Regions from separate parts of the Homo sapiens genome. Here region 1 is linked to region 2. Evidence: fine-mapped expression QTL. A gene starts in region 2. The other region holds a variant in brackets. All regions are shown on one strand. Distances are from middle to middle.

What was found. PIP is the estimated chance that this variant, and not a neighbour inherited with it, causes the effect.
Region 1: its variant is fine-mapped to the expression of SLC5A10 in whole blood (TOPMed, PIP above 0.99).

What each region holds. Positions count from the first base shown.
Region 1 is chr17:19,287,479-19,296,843 of GRCh38, reverse strand. The region is part of intron 4 of EPN2 (epsin 2); the gene reads right to left. EPN2-AS1 (EPN2 antisense RNA 1) reads left to right here. Exons shown (of 3, transcript NR_048576.1): 3 at 1-248. Among named protein-coding and RNA genes, the nearest start is that of EPN2-AS1, 14 kb to the left of the region's middle. RefSeq lists an enhancer at 6,631-7,224. The variant T/C (reference allele first, on the strand shown) is at 4,107.
Region 2 is chr17:18,946,946-18,956,194 of GRCh38, reverse strand. SLC5A10 (solute carrier family 5 member 10) reads right to left here and starts at 4,030. Exons shown (of 15, transcript NM_001042450.4): 1 at 3,879-4,030. The coding sequence starts at 3,989. RefSeq lists enhancers at 7,720-8,333, 8,334-8,947.

The DNA of each region.
Region 1 (9,365 bases), 340 kb before region 2:
TGAGGCCAGGAGTTCCAGATCAGCCTGGCCAACATAGGAAGACCTCGTCTCTACTAAAAATTAAAAATTCGGCTGCGTGTGGTGGTGTGCGCCTGTACTTCCAGCTACTAGGCAAGGCTGAGGTAGAAGGATCGTTTGAACCTAGGAGTTCGAGGCTGCATGGGCCATGATTGTGCCACAATGCTCCAGCCTGGGCAACAGCAAGACACTGTCTCAAAACAAATAAATAAAAATAAAAATAAATACACCAACATGTGAATAACAGTTGTCTTTGCATATTATAGTTAAGATTGAAGGATTTTTTTCTTCTTTTTCTATTTCTATTTTTTTTGCATTTTCCCAATTATCATGAATGGACATACATTATTACATTTGTACCAAAAATCTAGCAGGAGCCAGGCGCAGTGGCTCACGTCTGTAATCCCAGCACTTTGGGAGGCAGAGGTGGGTGGATCACCTGAGGTCAGGAGTTCAAGACCAGCCTGGTCAACATGATGAAACCCCATCTCTACTAAAAATACAAAAATTAGCTGGGCGTGGTGGCACGCACCTGTAGTCCCAGCTACTCGGGAGGCTGAGACATGAGAATTGCTTGAACCTGGGAGGCAGAGGTTGTAGTGAGCCGAGATCACGCCACTGCACTCCAGCCTGGGTGACGGGGTGAGACTCTGTCCCAGTTTAAAAAAAAAAAAATAGAATGAATGACTTCATGCCCTCACTGTACTTGGAGAAGCAGGTCGCAGAGTGGACTTGCGGGAGGAGCTCTGGTTATCCCACTGCAAGCTGGACTAAGCTGGACTAAGCTTTCCATTAGCAGTCAGCAGGAGGAGACTAATTTGATGTGTAATATCAATTTCCAAGCTGCTCCAAGTTGGAGTGTTGCCTAGCTGCCTGTAACTCTGTAAAAAGACACTGCTACGGGCCATGAGTTGAGGGGAGAGGGGAGGAAGAGCCCTTCAACTGATTAAAGCCTGACAGGGAACCAGCAGCCCCCAGCACACTGCTGTCAGTGCCACCGCGGCACCTGGGGCCCTCCCAGAGATTCTAATTTGAGAGGTGTGGGAGAGGTGTGGCCCAGGATTTGGGACATTTTGGGAGATTTAAAAGCTTGAGAGCTAGTGATTTAGGGAAAAAAGGCAACTGTCAAAATGAGGAACTGCCTTGTATCACTAAACAAAAACAACAACTATGAATCATACTGTTGCTAAACTCAACCTTAAAGCATCGAGAAACCACACAAATATATAAGGCATTCCTATATTTCTGGAATTGACTTCAAATGTATTTTTTCTTTTCTTTTCTTTTTTTTCTGAGAGGGAGTTTCACTCTTGTCACCCAGGCTGGAGTCTAATGGCACGATCTCGGCTCACTGCAACCTCCACTTCCTGGGTTAAAGTGATTCTCCTGCCTCAGCCTCCCAGGTAGCTGGGACTACAGGCATGCACCACTACACCTGGCTATTTTGCGCGCACGCGCGTGTGTGTGTGTGTGTGTGTGTGTGTATTTTTAATAGAGATGGGGTTTCACTGCGTTGGCAAGGCTAGTCTCGAACTCCTGCCCTCAGGTGAGGAGAGAGGAGAAGAGAGGCTTATTTAGCACTCATGCATGAAGTATGTTCTGAGCACCTTTCCTGGTTCAGGTGTTGTGCTAAAGACACTAGGGATACAGCACGGGGCATGAACGGGGCTCCTGCTCTAACAGCTTGTTTTAGTGCAGGGAGACAAAACAAAGCAAATAAGAGAATTTCAGGTAGTGAAAAAGACTCTGAAGATAGTAAAAAAGGATATGATACAGAGAGAGATTTAACTTATATGGCCTACTTCCCATGGGAAGACAAATCTATCTGCATGCCTTCCCTCCTGTTTCTAGTCATATAATTTTTTTTTAATGCCTCCTGGAAGTTGTCTATTTGAAACTAGCAACTGCTGTACTGAGCATCCATGAATAAAGACACCGTCAGCAGCTGTGACTATGCTAGCCAATCTGACTTAAAACATCTGACAGGGAACCAGCAGCCCCCAGTACAATGCTGTCAGTGCCACCGCAGTACCTGGGGCCCTCCCAGAGATTCTCATTTGAGAAGTGTGGCAAAGGTGTGGCCCAGGATTTGGGACATTTTGGGAGATTTAAAAGCTTGAGAGCTAGTGATTTAGGGAAAAAAGAAAAGGCAACTGTCAAAATGAGGAACTGCCTTGTATCACTAAACAAAAACTAACAACTATGTATCATACTGTTGCTAAACTCAACCTTAAAGCATCGAGAAACCTTCTACACTTATTGACAGTTTATAAACAATAGTTTGTTTACCTATACTACAAAGGATCCTTAAAAAACAGGTAAATATTGTATTGATCCATTTTCTATGGCACACGCCAATGTCAATCATTTAATCAATAACCCAATCCCCAATATTTTTTTTCTTTTGAGAAAGGGTCTCGCTTTGTCACCCAGGCTAGAATGCAGTGGCACAATCTTGGTTCACTGCAGCCTGGACTTCCTGAGCTCAGGCGATTCCTCCCACCTCAGCCCCACAAAGTAGCTGGGACTACAGGTGCACACCACCATGCCTGGTTAATTTTTTTTTTTTTTGTAGCGATGGGGTTTTGTTGTGTTGTCCAGGCTGGTCTCAAACTCCTAAGCTCAAGCAATTCACCTGCTTCAGCCTCTCGAAGTGCTAGGATTACAGGCATGGGCCACTGCAGCCGGCCTCCCAATCAGCAATTTTGATAGCACTGTTTCTTTTTTTTTTTTTTAAAGACAGAGTCTTGCTCTGTTGCCCAGGCTGGAGTACAGTGGTGCGATCTCAGCTCACTGCAACCTCTGCCTCCCAAGCTTCAAGCAATCTCCTGCCTCAGCTTCCTGGGTAGCTGGGATTACAAGCATCCACCACCACACCCGACTAATTTTTTGTATTTTTGGTAGAGACAGGGGTTTCACCATGTTGGTCAGGCTGGTCTCAAACTCCTGACCTCAAGTGATCCACCAGCCTCGGCCTCCCAAAGTGCTGGGATTATAGGCATGAGCCACCGCGCCCAGCCTTGATAGCACTGTTTCAATTCTGAGAACAATCCCATATTCTGACAATCAGAGGAGCTCCTTAAGATCTGGGGCCCAATTAAATAATGGTTTAATTAGGTATTCCTGGCTGAGTGTGGTGGCTTGTGCCTGCATGCCTGTAATCTCAACACTTTGAGAGGCCGAGGCCAGAGGATAGCTTGAGCCCAGGAGTTCCAGATCAGCCTGGGCAACGTGGCAAAACCCCACCTCTACAAAATACAGAAAGTAAAAAAAAAAAAAAAAAAAAAAAAAGCTGGGTATGGTGGCATGCACCTGTAGTCTCAGCAACCCAGGAGGTTAAGGTGAGAGCATCACTTGAGCCCAGGGAGGTAGAGGCTGCAGTGAGCCACAATCACACCACTGCACTCCAGCCTGAGCAACAGAGCAAGACCCTGTCTTTTTTTTTTTTTTTTTTTGAGATGGAGTTTCGCTCTTGTCACCCAGGCTGGAGTGATCTCGGCTCACTGCAACCTCTGCCTCTCAGGTTCAAGCGAATCTCCCACCTCTGCCTCCTGAGTAGCTGGGATTACAGGTGCCCACCACCATGACCGGCTAATTTTTTTGTATTTTTAGTAGAGATGGGTTTCACCATATTGGCCAAGCTGGCCTCGAACTCCTGGCCTCAGGTGATCTGCCCGTCTCAACCTCCCAACATGCTGGGATTACAGGCGTGAGCCACCCTGCCCAGCCAATCCCATCTTAAAAAGAAAAAAATAATAATACAGAAAAAAGCATTATATAAGATGAACCATATAATTTTAAAATTGTAATAGGTGTACACCGTATTTGCCTATTTTGCAGAAAAAATTTTAAAGCAATTTCAAAAACTGTCAAGTAGAGGAAAGAGAACCAGAGTTCTTCAAAATCCCAGTTCTAATTCTAGCTTCTTCACTTACAAATGAGAGGATTTAGGGGAGCAAGTTCATGTCAGTTTCCTTATTAACCTCATCTGCCCTGCCTACCTTCTAGACAACTGTGAGAAGCAAATGGACTCCTCCTAAGAGAAGGCAAAGGCCCAGGAGAGGTGATCCAGATGCCTTCTGGTTGTG[T/C]TGGGCAACTGTCTGACTTTAGCAGCCCAGCCATTCACGAATCACATTCAAATCCCACTTAAAACCCAAGCCCTTGTGGCAAGAACGAGCATCTTTTATACCTGATACTTGGATAGATGTGTCAATAAATCTGCTGCCTCTGAGGGTGTGTTCATGTTACTGATCAGCTTCCTCCATGACTCAATTTTCCACCTGAAGAGATTAACTCTCTCTAGAGTAAGCTAACGCTGACAGCCCTGCTGTGCCTCTGCCCCTGGGACTGACTGCCAGCCGAAGATGCAGGGCTCCCCTGACTTACAGAACACATTTGTTCCACCAAAACAAGATGCCAAATGAGTCTCATCTCCCACCAAATTCCTGGTCCATCCCCAAAACCCAATGGAAGGGCCCTGAGGGCTAGACACACTCCCCACAGGTAGCTATCCCTGGCCTGACACTAGGAAATACCTGGCTGGTGGCCACCAACCACCTCTCAGCCCCGGGCGGGCCCTGCTGCCCTCCTAGTTCCTGGCAGCATCACTCAGCCCTGCACCTTGGAGCTCTGTCACCTCCCACACTCTCAGGAGACCTCAGCTGGCCCAGGATCCTTCCAAGGTCCACCTCAGAAGCACTTCTGACACGCTGGCTGGGTTTGGCTTTTCTTTTTTTTAACAATATATTTTCCCACATCTTTGAGTTTTCAAAAGTAGACCCATGTAGGACTCCCTTTTCAGATGCCTCCTTCTTACCAAAACACTCTCCTTTGTGTGTACATGTCTGGTGTAAGTGCACATGTGTCTGTGTGTGCGCATGCTTCAGCTCTATTCCCAGAGCTGGGCAAGCAGGGCTGAGGCCATGACAACTCTGGTTCACCCCTGAGGTTCCCTTGTTATGAAGACAGCTTCCGTAGAGAGTCCTCTGAGGGCCCACTGTGCCTGGGGACTTCCTGGACATACTCATGAAACAGCGCACAAGAAAGCTTTCAAATTCTACCAAGTCCCCATTGGGTTTAAGAATGAGGCCGGGCGCGATGGCTCACGCCTGTAATTCCAGCACTTTGGGAGGCCGAGGCGGGTGGATCATGAGGTCAGGAGATCAAGACCATCATGGCTAACACGGTGAAACCCCATCTCTACAAAAAACACAAAAAAAAATTAGCCGGGCGCAGTGGCGGGCGCCTGTAGTCCCAGCTACTCAGGAGGCTGAGGCAGGAGAACGGCGTGAACCCAGGAAGCGGAGCTTGCAGTGAGCCAAGATAGCGCCACTGCAGTCCAGCCTGGGCGAAAGAGCGAGACTCCGTCTCAAAAAAAAAAAAAAAAAAAAAAAAAAAATGAATGGCTGATAACCGTGGATAGCCTTGCCATTCCACTCCCTGAGAAATCCTGTTTCCCCTTAGATTCTTGCCAGGCCACTCGAGAGTGGAGGCATGGCCCGAAGGCCTGGCGGACAGCAGCAGCAGCTGTTGGGGTGATGCCGCAGGACAATGATCACGGCCACTGCTCCATGAAGTCCTGGGCAGGCTGCTTGACACTCTGGCCTTCCCAGCTGCACAGTATCAAACCAAATTTGGATCCATCTCTAGCCACTGTATACAATCCTGGCTTTTCTTTCTCACCTCTGTTTTCCTTTTGCCCCAATTTCTTCTGGTATCTATTGAATCCTGTGGCATTGCATGTGTTTTATAAGCCAACTCAAATCCTTTCTAGTAATCACTTGGCAAACCCTTGCCGGGTGGGGTGTGAGAGGAGCAGCCTCAGCACAAGGGGCTCTCAGCCCAGAGGACCAGTAGCCCAAAGGAATCCCTGTCATTTCTCTGGGAGCAGACTTGAAGCATACTACAGCCAGGGCCAGCGGCGTCAGCAAGACAGGAGGGGCCATGAGGAGAGCCAAGAAGACCCGGCTGCAGGCAGCAGCCCCCACCTGGTACAAAGCCCACCACTGCTTACTTTGGTTTCAGAACCCAAGTTGGTTCTGATTCACTTGAGTGAATCAGAAAGCAATGAAGATTTCTATTCTGCCTGCCTTCCTTTTTCTTTTTTTTTCTTTTTTTTTTTTTTTGAGAACGGGAATGCTGGGCAGTTAAACTCCCACCAAGAACTGCAAGGTACCAGGCAACTCGGGACTTGCTCAGGGAGCATCAAGACAGCTGTAGCTCTGGCTCCGCAGACTCAGCAAGGGGGCTGAGAACACCAAGCTGAGCATTCCTTCCTTCCCTTACCCACCCTCAACAGAGGCCAGCCAAGGCAGAAGATCTGGCCCCTGGCCTTAGAGTGTCCTTGGTGAGAGGACAGCAGCAATCTTTCTTTCCATTCCTTGACTCAGGAATGCTTTTCTCATCCCCATCTGCCTCCCTTTGATGTAGGTTCCGTCTACCCCAAGAACTTCTGTAATTTCTCCAAAGCCTTTTGACACTGTGGCCAGTTCTGCAGAACAGAACAGGAAATGGTGGAAAGAGCCCGGGGGGCGGGTAACATGTGGGCTGCTCACCCCCACCAGGTTGCAGTTCAGGCCAGCTGCCATCTCTGCGTGATCTTAGGCAAATCCCTCAACCCCCTGGGCCTGAGGGTCCTCCTTTGGGCTGCGCAGCTTCTGCCCACACACAACTGTCCTGAGCACTGACTACATGCCAGGATCATGTGAGGGCAGCCAACACGGGTAAGCCTTAAGAGGAGCCAGCCTTGGGAGGGCAGCTGGTGTGTCTGAAATTACAAGACCACCAAGTAAACATGAGTGCCAGAGGCTAGGCATGGTGGCTCACGCCTGTAATCCCAGCACTTTGGGAGGCCGAGCTGGGCAGATCACTTGAGGTCAGGGGTTCAAGACCTGGCCAACATGATGAAACCTCATCTCTACTAAAAATACAAAAATTAGCCAGGCATGGTGACATGTGCCTGTAATCCCAGCTACTCAGATGGCTGAGGAAGAATAGCTTGAAGCCAGCTAGGCGGAGGTTGCAGTGAGCCCAGATCACCCCACTACACTCTAGCCTGGCCAACAGAGTGAGACTCCATCTCAAAAAAAAAAAAAAAAAAAACCATGAGCGCCAGGTGAGGCCGAACAGCTGACGGCTATAAGCACTGTCCATGCCCTGACAACTTCCAAAGTGTGCCTGCAGCCCAGAATTCTCCCCCCAACTCCAGACTTCTCAGACCTTCTTGACACCTCCACTTGCGTGTCTAGGAGACACTTCGATGTGTCCTGAACTCAACCCCTCCACTAACCTACTGCACCCACAGCCGCCCTCATCTCAGATGATGGCAGCTCTGCCTCCAGCTGCTCTGCTCCCAGCCCTCAGAGTCATCCTCAGCTCCCCTCTCACTCTGCCCAGTCCTCTAGCAAGGTCTGTCAGGTCATCTTTAAAACATACCCAGAATCGTCCAGGTGCGGTGGCTCACACCTGTAATCCCAGCACTTTGGGAGGCCAAGGTGGGCGGATCACGGGGTCAGGAGATCAAGACCATCCTGGCTAACATGATGAAACCTCATCTCTACTAAAAATACAAAAAATTAGCCGGGCGTGGTGGCGGGCGCCTGTAGTCCCAGCTACTTGGGAGGCTGAGGCAGGAGAATGGCGTGAACCCGGGAGGCAGAGCTTGCAGTAAGCGGAGATCGTGCCACTGCACTCCAGCCTGGGTGACAGTGCAAGATTCTGTCTCAAAAAAAAAAAAAAAAAAAAAAAAAAAACATACCCAGAACCTGGCTACTGCCCAGATTTCTGCAGCCCTGCCAGGTCCAGACCCCCACCATCTCCCACCTGGATGGGGACAGTGGCCTCCTGACCTGGCTCCCTGCTCCCACCTTGCCCATACACACCCCAAGGGATCCTCCTAACCCTCATCTTCCCCCATCTCACTGTGAGTGAAAGTCAAAGAAATTTCTGACATAAACCCAGAAGGCCCAGCACCGGGCCACTGAGTGCATGGTCTGCAAGGTAAGCACAGTGAAAGTGTTTCAAAAGCTCCTAGCAATGACATCGGCACAACATCTAAACATGGACACAAAAGGACCCGTCTGGATGGACTAGGAATTCAAGGAATGCTCCCAACCAGACAGAGTTGAGAGGCCCTGCCCCACACCTCCTCCAGGCCCACCTCTGCCACGCTCCACCCCCACATACTGGCCATGCTCCGTCACTCATCGCCACCTCACTGGCTGCCTTTTCTCAAACACCCTGAGCACACTCCCACCTCAGGGCCTTTGCACAGCTGCCCTTCTGCCTGGAAGGCTCTTTCCAACCTCCACAAGGCTCACCCTCACACTCCTTCAATCCTTGATCCATTCATACTGCAAGCCACCCTCTCTTACCTCCCCAAAGACACTCAAGCAAGACTGTTTTTGTTTTGCTGTTTTCCAGAGCGCTCATTACATAACATGCTGAATAATTTATATTGTGTTTTTCTTTCCCATTACCATATAAGCTCCACGAGGGCAAGGGGCTCTGTTCTGTGCTCAGTGCCTGGTGCCCCATGGGAACTCAATAAATACAGAGCAGAGGGCAGGTAGACCAGGCTTCAAAAGGAAAGCCCAGAGCTGTGCCTGCAGGCAGACGTCAGCAGGCCTGGGAAGGTCTGGAATGCTTCCGCCGGAACAGGAGGACCCCCAGACTGAGGGCAGGGGACACAGCTGGTGGAAGCAACTGAGGTCTGCAACGTCAAAGGCTCTGGGATGGCCCTGCAGGGCCTGGCATCTAAAGGGGCTGAGACTCAGGACCAGGGCATCCTTTATGAAGATGGAGGGTAGGTGAGACTGGGAGATAATGACAGCAGGAAATTGGTCAGAAGGCTGGCACTGAATTGAGGCCATGGAACAAGATGGACAATTCAAGAGACTTCCAAGGTCAGATCTACAGATCTATGTGGGAGGTGAGAGAGAGGGAGGGGCACAGGGAGGATGAGATGACATATGGCACATGAAAGAAAGCTCTCCTCAGACATCCTCATGATTATCGCCAGTCACACAAGAGGCCTTCCCGGCTGTGGCTGCTCTCATGTGAAGAGGGCTTCTGAGCAGTCTGCCTCCTCTGCCTCTGTGGGGTCTGCAGTCCCAAATGCACCCCTCACAAACATCTCTCCTGAATCACAGCCTGCATCTCACCTGACAGTTTTCTGAATGGCCGGCATCATTCTGACCTTCCCACTGCTGATTTCCAAGAAGGTGTGCTCCAAACAAATCCACTGGTGTGCATAGATTAAGCACTTACCTTATACTCAACCCTTTGTGAAGCATCAAGAAAGAACAGAGAAGAAACATGGCCAGAATCTTTGCCCTGGACTCCGACAG
Region 2 (9,249 bases):
GAGACAGAGTTTCGCTCTTGTTGCCCAGGATGGAGTGCAATGGCACGATCTTGGCTCACCGCAACCTCTGCCTCCCGGGTTCAAGCGATTCTCCTGCCTCAGCCTCCCTAGTAGCTGGGATTACAGGCATGTGCCACCATGCCCGGCTAATTTTGTATTTTTAGTAGAGATGGGGTTCCTCCATGTTGGTCAGGCTGGTCTTGGACTCCCGACCTCAGGTGATCTGCCCACCTCGGCCTCCCAAAGTGCTGGGATTACAGGCATGAGCCACCGCGCCCGGCCTATTTATTTTTATTTTTAAGACAGGGTCTCATTATGTTGCCCAGGCAGGTCTTGAACTCCTGGGCTCACGTGATCTCCCCATCTCAGCTTCCTGAGTAGCAGGAACCACGTGGACACCACCACACCCAGTTCAGAACTTTTGATGTGGCTCCTGCCTCTCTCCAGCTCCAACTCCCACCACTTTCTCTTTGTGTGCCGTGATCTTGCTGTACTAAAGGCAGCATAGTCTGAAGGCTCACAGTCTTGGCCAGGATGGCCATATCCAGATGTGTACGCTGTGCACTGCACAACTCCAAAGCATCTATGTTTACAGCCCATGCTTTTTCCTAACCCTTCTCATCTTTCAAGCCTATAGTGGGCATTGCCAGTTGCCTTCTTATATCTGGGGCTCTGGGGGCTGCTGGCAGTTGCTGGGGGCCACATGTACCCATTTAAGGTTCCCCGAAGGCCCCCATGCCAGAGTTGGCTTCAACTTCTTGATCTGTGTGGAGTTCTTAGTCCTCGCAACAGCTCTATGAAGCAGGTGCCATGTTACCAATGAGGAAACTGATGGTCTCAGAGATGAAAACACACCCATCTAGCAAGTGGTGCAGCCTGGATTTCAACTCAGGCTCAATCGCAGGGCTGGTCATTTCACATCAGGACACGAGGGGAGCTGGGCTTAGGACAGAGCTACACATGGATGGAGGCTGAGAGAACCAAAGTGAGGTGTAGCTGTATCCTTAATAATGCTGTGAATCCCTGGATCATACTGCACCTGAAGCCCTTTCTATTGCTGGACACAATTACATTTCCTGAATTCTTTTTTTTTTTTTTTTTTTTTTTTTGATACAGTGTTTCACTCTTTTGCCCATGCTGGAGTGCAGTGGCGTGATCTCAGCTCATTGCGACCTCCGCCTTCCGGTTTCAAGCAATTCTCCTGCCTCAGCCTCCTGAGTAGCTGGGATTACAGGCGCCTGGCACCACGCCTGGCTAATTTTTGTATTATCACAAAATAATACAAAAGTAGAGACGGGCTTTCACCATGCTGGCCAGGCTGGTCTCAAACTCCTGACCTCGTGATCCACCCGCCTAGGCCTCCCAAAGTGCTGGGATTACAGGCATGAGCCACTGCGCCCGGCCTACATTTCCTATATTCTTAGAGCTCATTTGAAAGCAGTTTTCAGTCACTTGTTAACAGATACTTTAATGAATGCAAAGGCTCAGCTCAAAGTCCCCTCCTCCAGGAACATCTCTTCCTTAAAGGCCTCCCCCCGGCCCCCGCCAGACTCTCCCAGGCCCACCATCTAAACATCTTTGCAGGGCTGCACCTGCCTGGCTTGCTCTGTCTGCTTCTCCCTGTGGGATGCATCTCCAGCATCCTCCCTGTCTGGTTCTGATCTTTTCTGGATGTGCTCACTGCTCTCTTGCCAGCCGCTCCCAGCTGGGCCAGCCTAGCCTGCTAGGAGGGACAGGGCAGAACTCCTACAGCCCTACTTCCAGGGGCACCAGCCTGCAAACAGCAAGCTGACTCACTAGGAGAGGTGGGTCATGGGCAACAAGGGCTGGTGGCCCAAGTCACTGGGCTACAAAGGGTCTGGCCTCAGGTGCCCAGAACATCTTTCTTAGACGTGCTAGCCAGGACAGCCTTGTCTCCCCTCCTCTTTCCCTCTTCAGATCTTGCCTGGCCCTTACCTCCCCTCATCCAGAAACCCTCCACTGTCTGTTCTGCCCCACGTGGGCACCTCCTCCTCTGAATTCTAGCCACCAACTGTCACAGGAATATAGCACGTTACAGTTTGCAACAGATTTTCACTTCCATTGGACCCTTGCTCCTTGGAACAGCCCTGAGATGTGGGCTGCACAGAAACCCGCATTGCGTGTTTGAGGAAACTGAAGCCCACAGAGATTAAGTGACTTAAGTACACAGAGCAGAGCCGAGACTTGAACTCGGCTTTGCCGATGGCCAGCACTGGGCTACTTGTGAGTTAATATTTAATCACATACAGGTTGAGGAGCCGTTATCCGAAATATTTGAAACCAGAAAAGTTTTGGATTTCGGACTCTTTCAGATTTGGAGATACTTACAGAATACCTGCCAGTTGAACATCCCCAACCCAAAACTCTAAAATCTGAGATGCTCCAATGAGCATTTGCTTTGAGCATCATGTTGGTGTTCAAAATGTTCCAGATTTTGGGTTTCAGATTTTTGAAATCCAACCTGTGATAATTAATTTTAATGACTGCGGCTGCTACTCTTATAATCACCACTGCTACAACTGCCACCACCACCACCACTGCTACCACTGTAGAACCAATGGCAGCAGCAAGGTCTGGTCCTGTGTGGGCCCCTTGATAGCAGACCTCACCCCAGGTAGGTGGTGTCTCCATATAACAGATCAGAACACTGAGGCCCAGGAAGCTGAGGGGACGTGACCAGTCTCCTGTTTGCCAGGCCTTCGTGCTTAGGCCAGGGGTTATGGAAGATAAGAACGGGTACTCGGCCGGGCGCGGTGGCTCACGCCTGTAATTCTAGCACTTTGGGAGGCCGAGGCGGGCAAATCATGAGGTCAGGAGTTCGAGACTAGCCTGGCCAACACGGTAAAACTCTGTCTCTACTAAAAATACAAAACATTACCTGGGTGTGGTAGTGGACGCCTGTAATCCCAGCTACTCAGGAGGCTGAGGCAGAATTGTTTGAACCCAGGAGGTGGAGGTTGCAGTGAGCCGAGATAGTGCCACTGCACTCCAGCCCAGGTGACAGTGCTAGACTCCGTCTCAGTTAAAAAAAAAAAAAAAAAAAAAGAAGGGGTACTCATTCTCCCCAGGAGACTGTCAGGGCTCAGGGATGCCAGGCTGGGGACCTCTGGGGCTTAAGAAGTGGAGCCCAACATCCCCAGGCGCTAAGCGTGGAGCAGGTGACCTGAACCAGGCTGTGTCCACCTTCCCTCAGGAAGGCCTCCACGATAGACCAGAGGAGCCCTTCCCTTGCTGCAGGGCCAGAGCCTCGGTTTCTCCATCTGCACATGAAACAGCCTGTCCCCAGGGGCCCCGCTGCCCCTGGAATCTGTGTGTGGGGTCAGATCTCTGCTCATTTCTCACTGTTATGAAGGGAGAAAGAACCGGCTTATGATCTAGGGCTAGGCCACAGGACATAAATCCCCAGGGAGCTTGTTCAAAATAAAGACCCCCAGTTCCCAGGGCCCTCCCTGCCTCCGGATTCTGATCCAGCAGCTCTGGGGTGCAGCCAGGGAATCCCGGGGAGCCTGTTGTTCAAGCAGACAGGAGTCACTGACACCATGGAGACTGGGACCAGGAGGCTGATGGGCCACACCCAAGGACTCCAGCTGGGCAGCAGCACAAAAGCCCAGTTACCTGTTAGAGAGAATTTCCTCCTCCTCACTTTGCAGATGGAGACGCCATTACCCAAAGAGAGAAACGGGCTTGGTCAAGGTCTCCAAGCAAGTCTACCCCAGGCTGGGAGGAGGACCACAAGGATCACTAGGCCACCAGCTGGGACCAATGCTGACACCACAGGGACATGCTGGACCCCGGTTCCCACCCCAAGCACCAACCCTGAGAGCCCACTTGGCCAACACCACCACAGGTCCCCTTACCCATATGCCCACGGCCACATTCAGAGCAAAATACACAGTGATGACGATGATGTCAGCCACGCTCAGCTGCGTCCCGGGAGTGTGGAGGTCGCTGGTGGAGTTGGCGGCCATGGCTGTCCTGCCGCAGGCACTAGGTATGAGCCCGAGGGACTGAGGGGCAAACCAGGTCAGAAAGGGTTTCCTGGCAGGGAGCTCATTGATCATTAAACCAAGCGGACAGTGGCATCTCCAGCCCATGATGTGGCTGCATGCAGGGCAGCTGCCTCACCATGCAGTTCAGCTTCCTCACCCCATGGTGGGGTGCAGATCCCAGAGCGCAGGAGTCAGGGAGCCTGGGAGAAGCAAGTGGGAGGAGGAAAGGAAGGAGCCTCCTTGAACTCGGAGGGGGCTTGGGGAAAATGAACCGCATTTAGTGGACCCGGAGGCAGCCCAAATAGTCCCAGAAAGGCTGGGTTGCTTAATGGGTGGCTTCACCTATATCTAATTTGTATAAGAAGCATAGAGCGTAGGGACAACCGCCTCACCTCTGAAGATACTGCCGTGGCGGGCAGCCATGTCCTCCCTTGGCCATCGGGCTGTGAGTGGACTGAGCAGGGCTTGGGAGGGGGACACCTGCATTATGGCTCACGTCCAGCCAACACAGCCCAGGCTCAGAGGCAGCCCCATGTCGGACAATAAAGTCCTGCTTCCAGCGTTTCTGCTTTCTTTTTCTAGACCCGTGAAACAGTCCCAGGCCCCTCAACTTGACCATGCATTCGGCCCCCACCCCGGGCAATGTCTGCCTGGGACCACAGAGGGACCCAATATCTGTCACACACCAAGGACCATGCGTGGCTGTTCTGCACATGATCCCATTTCACGGACCATGCGTGGCTGTTCCGCACATGATCCCATTTCACGCTCACAGCAGCCACGCAGAGTAGGCAATGTCTCATCCTAGTCAAGGAAATGGCCATCCGCCATTACGCAGCCATTGAAGGCGCAGAGTAGGATTCAGTGCAGATGTGGCCCCACCGTCTCCACCGCAGTGACAGTGACGAGTTCCATCTGGATTCCATCAGAGTGGGACGCTCGCTCACTAATTCTATCAGTGTACACAGCAGGGCTGGCCGGCAGTCTCACGCCTCTGCTCAGTGACATGACTCGTGACTTTGCAAAGCATTTGCAGTTTAACCAGACATGCAGCACTTCCAGAAGTGTTAATGAGTGAGCGGCTGCCACCAGGAACACGCTGGCCTGCAAACCCAGCCAGCCTGTTACTCAATAACCCTGAGGTGCGGGTAAAAATTAATCCCCTCGGCCAGGAGCAGTGGCTCATGCCCTTGGGAGGCTCATGCCTTTGGGAGGCCAAGGCGGGTGGATCACCTGAGATCAGGAGTTTGAGACCAGCCTGGCCAACATGGCAAAACCTCGTCTCTACTAAAAATACAAAAATTAGCCAGACATGGTGGTACGCACCTGTAATCCCAGCTACTTGGGAGGCTGAGGCAGGAGAATTGCTTGAACTCAGGAGGTAGAGATTGCAGTGAGCCAAGACTGCGCCATTGCAGTCCAGCCTGGGCAACAGAGGGAGACTCCATCTCACAAAACAAACAACAACAACAACAAAAAACAATTAATAGTCCTCACATACAGGACTAGGCAGAAGAAGGAAGGGAAAAAGGAAGTCACTGCTGAGAGAACCCTCAGGCAGGCTCAACTGCCTGCCGTCTCCCCTTGCCTCTGGCCAGCGAGCCTCAGATGGTGTTTACTTCCCAAGCCATTGCTTGCAATGTGTTTTAAAACAAAAGGCTGCTTTGCACTGATCAGGAGGACCCAGCTGGGAGGATCCAGACTTACCAAAACTATCCCATTAATAGAGTAGTTGTACCAGCAGCATTGGCTCTGAGACCGTTGGCTAGGTCTTAGAAGGAAATAAACCACTTAGTGATAACTGCCGCCTTTGGATCAAAAGTCCTTGGGATTTTTGCCACTGAGTTTAAATGGAAAAAAATGAAAAAAGAGAAAAAAAATCCTAGGGAAAGAAAGCACCAGTAAAGGTGCTCTTAAGGGGCTGAGACTGATTTGCTGGTTCTGTCCTGAAGGACGGGGACAGGAGGAGGGTGGCAGCGGAGGACATGGAGGGAGAAGTACCAAACAAGCCCAGCCATGTCTGCGGGAGAAGAAACGCCACCCGAAGCCCAGTCACACCCACATTCCCACCCCACCTGACCCAACGGGATCACCTATTCACTCACCCCAAGAAACATGAAGACCGTCCTAGCTGAGAAGTCATCCGTACCACACCCCTTGAAGCCTCTTCCATCCCCGGAAGAAGTCCCTCAGACTCATGAGAACCAGGAACGGGATGTGGAGGGGTCAGCAGAGCCTAAGCAGGACGACTGGAGCCATTTGTATCTTGTGTGTGGGGCATCTATGAGCTTATGAGTTTCTTTCTTAAGTGCTTCAGAATTGTGACCAAGGCATGACCAACCATGTGATGAGCTGGGCAGCACTGGAACGGACTGCACATGAGTGAAGGGAGCCCATGAAGGGAGCCCACGGTCATCTGCGGCAGCTTGCAGCGAATCCCTCCAGGGCCTCTCTCTGCCTGCCTGCCAAGTCTAGTTCCAGCTTATCTGTTGCTCCTGCTTTTGCAATAAGCACAAGACTGATCATTTATTCCTGCTAAGTATTGTCTGCTTGTCTGTCCTGATGGAGAAACTCCCCAAGAGTCCTAAGCTACAAGGGCAAGCGTGCTCAGGGCAGCCAAAAAGTTTAGAAATTTCCTACATAACCACCCAGAGAAGGTGGTGAGTGAATTATGAGACCTCCAAACCATGGAACACCATGACCATTAAAAAGATGAGGTGGCTTTATATAATGGCATGGAAGGATGATACACTTGTAAGTGAAAAAAGCAAGCTAGAGAATATAGACCCATATCCATGTTTATCCTCTCATTATATATAATGTAAGGGGCTGAACAGCCACAGTGTTTTGAAGGACACACACCAAACTGCTAAGGAGAGGAGAAAGGAGAATTATCACTTTATTTTATTTTATTTTTTTGAGACAATGTCTGGCTCTATTGCCCAGGCTGGAGTGCAGTGGTACAATCACAGCTCACTGCAGTCTCAGCCTCCTGGGCTCAAGGGATCCTCCTACCTCAGCCTCCTGAGTAGCTGGGACTACAGGCATGCACCACCATAGCCAGCAAAGTTTTGTGGGTATTTTTTTATAGCGACAGGGTCTCACCATGTTGCCCAGGCTGTTGTCAAACTCCTGGGCTCAAGCAGCCTTCCAAAGTGCTGGGATTACAGGCGTAAGCCACTGTGTCCGGCCCAAGTTATCACTTTTTATGCTTTGGTGTGGGCTGGGCTTTTTTGTAAGACCTCTGGCCTTGGCCTTGGTTTAGACCAGCAAGCTGGCCCCTAGGGGTGCCCCCGACCCTGCCTGGGCTCCCCTCACCAGCCAGGTCAAGCAGTTTCCTTCCACTGATACAGAGGCTCAAGGAGAGTGTTGCCAGGTGCTTTGTGAAGGGTGGTGGGTCCCAGACAACCATTTCCTGAATGCTCACCTGCCCACCTGTGCTGGGTACCTGCATCTGCATTGGTTGGTCACCTCCCCGCAGCCCTTCCAGGCGGCCTTCACTTCCCTCCACTCCGCTGCTCTGCTGGCCGAGCGCTGCATTCTCTCATCCAGGTACCCTCTTGACCACTCCCCTTGAGGGCTTCAGGTTTGAGAGTCCACCCTCCATCACTCCCCACCCAAACCCACCCTCCCCAAAGCTCAGTGGGCTCGGCTGGGACCCCAGGGGCCAGCCCACAGCTTCATCTTTACCATGGTTACAGACACCTACCGAGCAGTCACCATGTGCCCACGCATCGTCCACCCTCAACTCTCCCAACTCCTTGAGGGATGGAAAATCCGAGGCACAGAGAAACAGAGGAACTTGCTCAAAGTCACACAGCAACTAAGAGACAGAGGAGGACTTTGAACCCAAATTGTCCAGCTCTCGAATCTGCCCTTTTAACATTAAACTCCACCACCCAGCATGGCTCGTGACAGGTATTCAGTGGGAAGGAATGACCCCCCTCCTCCCCTGGGGTCCCAGCCAAGCCCACTGAGCTTTGGGTGAGGTTGGGTTTGTGCAGGGAGTGATGGAGGTTGGACTGTTAAGCCTCAGGCCCTCGAAGGGAGTGGTTGAGTGGGCACCTGGATGGGAGGACCCTGAGCTCAGCCGGCAGAGCAGCAGAGTGGAAGGGAAGTGAAGGCAGCCGGGAAGGGCTGCTGGGAGGTAATGGAACCGATGCAGACCAGGCGTCCAGCACAGGTGGGGAGGGACTGATCCCTGGCCTCCAGTCTTATCCTTTTGAATCTACTCACCACGCACAGTATGTCAGAACACCCTAAAAGCCTAACCCTGGACATGACACTCCTGTTTCAAACTTACCTTCAACAGCCTTTACTGCTCCAGAGATCAAGTGCAAGGCCTTGGGCTCGGCACCAGGGGCCCTGGAACCTGGCCCTCCCCCGACCCAGCTCCATCTTCTGCTGCCCTCAGTTCCTCCCTGGGTGTCCTCAAGTCCCCCTACCTCTCAGTCTGCTTGGTGAACTGCTACTCATCCTTCAAGACGGTACTGAGACATCACTGCCTCTCTGAAGCCTTCCTTGGCTCCTCCCTCTTCTGTGCATCCCTGGCCCTGCTGGGCTAGTGGCTGTGCTGCCACACGACACAGTAGTATCTGCCCCCACCCACCCGTCACCCCGCTCCTCCAGTGACCGGCACAGGGTCTACCCTTGCCACATCACTGCAAGAGGTCCAAGGAGCCCAGGCAACTGAGGAATCTTCAGATGCTGAGGCCCCTGAGGCCCTTCAATCCCAGAAACCTATTCTTTTTTTATCATTATTGAGGGAGAATGCATTTAACATAAAATCCATCATTTTAACCCCTTAAAGTACACCAGTCTGTGGTTTCCACCACCTTCACAACACTATGCACCCATCGCCATTACCTATTCCAACATTTTTCTTTTCTTTTTTTTTTTTCTGAGACAGAGTTTTGCTTTGTCACCCAGACTGGAGTGCAGTGGCGCAATCTCGACTCACTGCAACATTTGCCTCCTGGGTTCAAGCAATTCTCCTGCCTCAGCCTCCCGAGTAGCTGGAATAACAGGCACGCACCACCACGCCTGGCTAATTTTTGTATTTTTAATAGAGACGGGGTTTCACCGTGTTGGTCAGGCTGGTCTTGAACTCCTGACCTCAGGTGATCCACCAACCTCAGCCTCCCAGAGTGCTGGGATTACAGGCATGAGCCACTGCGCCCAGCCTATTCCAGCATTTTTCATCCTCTCCAATGAAACCTTGTACAAATTAAGCATCATC